2 linked regions of the Homo sapiens genome follow. The protein of the gene in region 2 purifies or fractionates together with the protein of the main gene of each other region. This does not show direct contact. Each region holds a gene or a part of one and is shown on either strand. Other genes may lie near its edges.

What was found. Proteins that work in one complex are often made in the same cells at the same time.
Region 1: the proteins of UBR7 (region 2) and DLAT purify together in Homo sapiens (affinity purification with mass spectrometry, with the first as the bait; one large-scale study listed by BioGRID). This does not show direct contact.

What each region holds. Positions count from the first base shown.
Region 1 is NC_000011.10:112,042,408-112,045,907, forward strand, and holds part of DLAT (dihydrolipoyllysine-residue acetyltransferase component of pyruvate dehydrogenase complex, mitochondrial isoform 2 precursor), read left to right. Parts: intron 1-1,058; coding exon 1,059-1,126; intron 1,127-2,730; coding exon 2,731-2,823; intron 2,824-3,455; coding exon 3,456-3,500.
Region 2 is NC_000014.9:93,226,986-93,229,715, reverse strand, and holds the end of UBR7 (putative E3 ubiquitin-protein ligase UBR7), read right to left. Parts: coding exon 2,681-2,730; 3' UTR 501-2,680; downstream 1-500. UniProt on the Homo sapiens protein: E3 ubiquitin-protein ligase which is a component of the N-end rule pathway. Recognizes and binds to proteins bearing specific N-terminal residues that are destabilizing according to the N-end rule, leading to their ubiquitination and subsequent degradation.

The sequences.
Region 1 (3,500 bases), on a different chromosome or scaffold from region 2:
GAAATCTAATAGGGGTACTACCACCTCTGTTCTAGAGCTCCTAGTGAGGATAAATACAATCCTAGCCAACTCAGTTTTCGTAATGAAGGAAAGGAATTGGGAAGAACTACACACAACAAGAGTCCTTTTTAAAGTCTGCCTTGGGGGAAGATGAATCAGTTTGACCAAATTTTTCCTAGAAGTGGGCCAGTGTAAAAGGTATTCTATAATAATAACTAAATTCTGAATCTCCGTAGAATTAAAGGTCAAGATTATCTACTTGGGTCCAAAATTAAACCTAAGAGGCTGTAGGTGGGAGGAGGGAGGAAATTGAATATAAGTAAAATTAAACCTACTGAGAGAACTTTGAAGATCCTTCCTCATGTGTGACATTGCACCTTTTTCCTTCATTTCCTTTAACACGGGCCAGTTTAGAGCCTTGGCTACTGTGAAAAAGCTATGAGTCATAGAGACCACATAAGGAATGAATGATTCTAAAGATAAGATAATTGCAGTAAAGAGTTATTCGTGCTATTTTGGGGTGAAAAAATCGACTTGATTTGTCAAAACAATTATTGTTATACCTGTAAATTCTGTATAAAAGGAATTCTTTATGGTCACATAAATCCAGAACCCAAATGAAATCTATTTCACGGCTTAGGAATGGTTTTTTGGAGCTAACCAGGAGGAGGCAGCTAGTTTCCCTTTTGGAGATATAAACTGTGCTCGGCATTATCCTTATGCCACATTTCCCAATTTAAAAGTAAGGAAGATGAAAAAAATTAAGTACAACTTGGATAAAACTCTAAAAGAGAAATACATAAAGGAATATTTGCAGTAGTTAAAAAGAAAAGACCCACTCCAGATCACACACTGGTACTCTGTGTGGATTAAAATTAATAGTTGACAAAAGCTGGTATTTGTAGGTAGCACCTTAAGGGGTAGGGTTAAGGCTGTGAACCTTTCAGAATGTTTTTGGTAGTAAACCCTTAGGAGCTTGCAGTTTAGGATCACAGCGTTGATCTCCTTGGGGAACCAATGGTATGTCATCATGTATGTGATATTTATGTCTCTTACAGGGACAGGACCAGATGGTAGAATCACCAAGAAGGATATCGACTCTTTTGTGCCTAGTAAAGTTGCTCCTGTGAGTTATGTGTAGCTCTTACTTTTTTTGCAGTTTGTCTCTACAGCCTGTTAGACCATTTCATACATTATTTATGAACGAAATAGCTCAACCAAGATTGTTTTCTTCTAATTTCAGTGGTTTAATAATACAGTCATCCCTCGGTACCCATGAGAGGTTGGTTCCAGGAGCCCCCTTGTATACCAAAATTCGCAAATGCTTAAGTCTCTTATATAAAATAGTGTAGTATTTGTATATAACTTACCCACATCCTCTCAAATACTTTAAATCATCTCTAGATTACTTATAATATTAAATACAAGGTAAATACTATGTAAATAGTTGTTATATTTTATTGCTTAGGAAATAATAATAAGGACAAAAAGTCTGTACTTGTGCAGTTCAGATGCAACCATCTGTTTTTTTCTGGAATATTTTTGATTTGCCTTTGGTTGAATCCAGTGATGCAGAACTTATGGATATGGAGGGCCAAGTGTATTTAGATATTTGTGTGCTATCATTTATATACAAGATCAAAGATGATATACTACATTGACATGTATTCCACATTATGTTTTGAGCTAGTTAATCGGTTTTTGCTTTGAAATAAAAGATTTGTTCTTTTTTTCTTTTTCAAAATATTTTAAAGTACAGTTGAATGAGTTGTTTTTGGTGTTTGGTTTTTTTTGTTTGTTTGTTTTTGAGACAGTCTCACTCTGTCGCCCAGGCTGGAGTGCAGTGGCGCGATCTTGGCTCATTGCAACCTCTGCCTCCTGGATTCAGGCGATTCTCATGCCCCAGCCTCCCAGGTGGCTGGGACTACAGGTGCATGCCATCACACCTGGCTAATTTTCGTATGTTTAGTAGAGACAGGGTTTCGCCATGTTGGCCAGCCTGGTCACGAACTCCTGGCCTCAAGTGAGTCATTGTGAGGCTCAAGTGAGCCTCCCAACCCCCTTTTCTTAACATTGTTTAGGATAATGGATTAGCTTGTTTATACTTATTTATTATTCCTTGCAACTTAAGAATGCTTCCATTGCTTTTCTTGAACATAATTTTGCAAAAACAAAATTATTTTGACACAAACTGGTCATTGAACATACTCTGATACAAAGAAAAATGACACTTAAAACATGACTTCAGAATTCTAAGTAAAAAAATTAAAACTCTTAAAACAAGCAGAAGTCTCTTTTGCTCACTGGGGACAGAAATAGGTATTCTATAAAGCTTAGTTTTTAGACTGGACATGGTGGCTCATGCTTGTAACCCCAGCACTTTGGGAAGCCAAGGTGGGTGGATCACTTGAGCCCAGGCATTTGAGACCAGCCAGGGCAACGTGGCTAATTTCCGTCTCTACTAGAAATCCAAAAAAATTAGCTGGGCATGTTGGCGTGCACCTGTAGTCCCAGCTACTCTAGGGGCTGAGATGGGAGGATTGCTTGAGCCCAGGAGGTTGAGGCTGCAGTGAACCATGATTGAGCCACTGCATTCTAGCCTGGGTGACAGAGCAAGACTCTGTCTCAAAAGACAAAAAAAAAAAACTGCATAGTCACTGGCAGTCTTTCCCAGGTACTTACGCTAAGATTGAATCACAGTTACTAAGAGCTTTTTCTTTCCTCCCATAGGCTCCGGCAGCTGTTGTGCCTCCCACAGGTCCTGGAATGGCACCAGTTCCTACAGGTGTCTTCACAGATATCCCAATCAGCAACATTCGTCGGGTAAGAGAATTACCATCATCTGGAATCAGCTGTTAGGGGCATCTTTAGGTTGTTTAGTTGCTTCCATAGTTTTTAACACATTAACAGAGGCTTTTTAAGTTGGGAATATTGGATGATTACTTTAAGGGAAGTTTTGGCCAACTGAATACTTGAATCACTTTGTTCCTATTAGAAGGGCCAGGCGCAGTAGCTCATGCCTGTAATCCCAGCACTTTGGGAGGCCAAAGCGGGCAGATCACAAGGTCCAGACTTCGAGACCAGCCTGGCCAACATAGTGAAACACCCCGTCTCTACTAAAGATACAAAAATTAGCCGGGCATGGTGGCACATGCCTGTAGTCCCAAGTACTCGGGACGCTGAGGCAGGAGAATTGCTTGAACTTGGGAAATGGAGGTTGTGGTGAGCCGAGATCGCACCACCGCACTCCAGCCTGGGCAACATAGCGAGACTCCATCTCAAAAAAAAAAAAAAATCTAGGAGGTGTTATATTATGGCGGAGTCCTCCATCTTTCAATTATAATAATGCTTGAGGTAAGTATTAGCAGAGAGTAAGGTGAAGAGACAAACAGAGCCCTAAATTAGTTAAGGTCTTAACTCAAGATAATTGATTTTTTAAATCTCTTTGGTTTCAGGTTATTGCACAGCGATTAATGCAATCAAAGCAAACCATACCTCAT
Region 2 (2,730 bases):
CTGGCTATTCACAGGTGCAACCACGGCACTCTATAGCCTCCAACTCCTGGGCTCAAGCAATCCTCCTGCATCAGCCTCCCAAGTAGCTGGGACTACAGGCGTGAACCTCCATGCCCGGCTCTATGCATTTTTTCTTTTTTTTTTTTTTTTGAGACAGTCTCGCTCTGTCGCCCAGGCTGGAGGGCAGTGGCGTGATCTCGGCTCACTGCAAGCTCTGCCTCCCGGGTTCACGCCATTCTCCTGCCTCAGCCTCCCGAGTAGCTGGGACTACAGTCGCCCGCCACCACACCCAGCTAATTCTTTGTATTTTTATTAGAGATGGGGTTTCACCATGTTAGCCAGGATGGTCTCGATCTCCTGACCTCGTGATCTGCCTGCCTCGGCCTCTCAAAGTGCTGGGATTACAGGCGTGAGCCACCGCGCCCTGCCTGCATTTTCTTAAAACCTGCAGAGGGAGGCTGTGTAGACTTAAATATACTAAAAACAATCTGAAAAGCAACTATTTTGTATTGGTTTTATTTAAATTTTACAGAAACCTGATCAGAGTTAAGTATGTAATTATAAGTCCAGTAACAATTTCTACAAAAATGCACATACAATGCCAGAACTCCTTAAAAGCAACTAATATCATATTTGTGTTTTGCATAAAACATGCATTAATATGTTGGCCAAAATCAGTCTCTACAAGAAGAGACAGTCCAATACAGTCAATAAGAAAACTAGTTGTGAACAACAGGTAAAAAAAGAGGTTTCCAGTTAATGTGAAAGAAGGAATAGTACCTTTCATAAAACAAGCCCTTCAGCGCTGAGTTAACTGATCGGTACTATTGTGCTGCACGTAATGTAACACATCACCTCCAAGACTTGGTCCTGATTGGTCATAGGAAGTAAGGGACTTTCTGGTAGTTACATCAGATATTTGAGAAGATTAAAAGTTTTCCGGACATGATGGTATACTAATAGTGCAACCTTGCAAAAAGGGTTCGAAACATTGTCAGACTTGGAAGAGTTCCCCAGCTTGATAAACAACCTCAAAGACACCCCGAGCCTTTGAACGGAGCCCTCTGCACAAGGCCAGCTCAGGGCTCACCAGCATGTCCTGTGGCCACAAGACCTTCCAGCTCCACATACCACCCTTCGTGAGGATCTGCAATTAGGAGCCTGAGTGCCGAAGAACATGGTTGTGCCATTTCTTTGAGGCTTTGACTTTTTATAAGGCCTAGTTCATCTCATCCAGGGATTGGGCACTCGAATGAATACACAGATGCTGGACACATAAGGAGTATTAATATACATGGTGGCCCCACAGCCTGAAATGCTTTTATTAACATACATCAAGGTGTGTCTCCGACTGTCAGGAAAGACCTTGGTCCTCCAGAGGCAGAGAGAAGCTGAGGGTTCTCTATGTATCACAAGGCATTTCCTACATAGACTGAGGGGTGTTAAAGAGATCTCATATCAACTGAAAGGACTTCCCCTCAAATGTGGGGCTCTGTACAACCTTCCATGAGGATCTTCAAAAAAAAGATCTCATAGTCGTTAGGGAAGTGGCGGTGGACATTAACATTATATACACAAAACTCATCATTCGTGCAGCCTCGGGCCTTGTTTGTAATCTCTTCCACAGTCTGTCTCTTCCAAAACAGGGCTCCCTGCCCTGCTTATTTCAAGTAAGCTAAGTCAGGATCTGTTTTCTTTAGCAGATTCAAGGGGGAAAAATAATAATTTATTGGGGTTCTAATAACATTTTCATAACAGAATATCAAAATAGGTCCATTTTTGATATATGCTTATGAATATCCCTGATAATATCAAGAAATCCAGAGGACTTCGTAAACCACCAAGATTTCACAGGGGTGAGACCCGGTCTGTTTTCTAGGCAGCAGAGAAGGGACTAGTATACGGGCAAATGTTCTCCAGGAAGCCCTGTGAGCACTACAGTACTGAAATTCTAATTCTAGTGCCAATAGAATCATGAACGAAAATTTCACTTGAACTGTATTAGTAAAATTCATAACAAAGGCTTGCTTCCTCAACCCTGTCATCTGTTAATCTCTCCGCCTGTGACAGACATCCAGACCAGAAAACCATCAGTCCTGGCTACTCTGGAGGTTGGGCCTAGAGAAAACAAGCCCCAAGATCCTTTCTAAGCTATGACCAAACCTCAGAAAACAGGGACGTGAAAGAAGGAGCAGACCAGGCTTGAGGAAGCTTTGACCCAAGGCACCACGATCATAGGGGCGAGGGGACCTGTAGAGGTTCTAGGTGACGGGAAGAGAGCCTTCCGTGATGCCTGCGGAGGAGGTTCTGGAAGGCAACAGCTCTGTGGCAAAACACACACATCTGGGAGTGAAATAACAGATCATTAAACAAGACACCAATTTGCTTTCTCAAAACAAAATCAAACTTAAAAACTATGCAAATAACCCTGGGTGCACTGGAGTAGGAGTACACTGGAGAAGTCTGTGGAATGAGCTGCATCAGCTGAGTCACAGAGGACGCTGGCTGTGAAGTCAGCATCCACACGGTGGCTACTGCAGCTAAAGAGAATGAAGGGAGCGCGAGGCCTCTCCAAACAGAGGAGGACGGAAAGGGGGCCAAATGTGAACCACACCTCTTTTATTCCAAGAATGGGAAGCGCATTTTCATTGGCTTGAATGAGAAAGCTTCATACTCCACTCTAGCTGCAGTAATACTGCATCCCATCCACTCTTCTTCTCTTTTTTGACT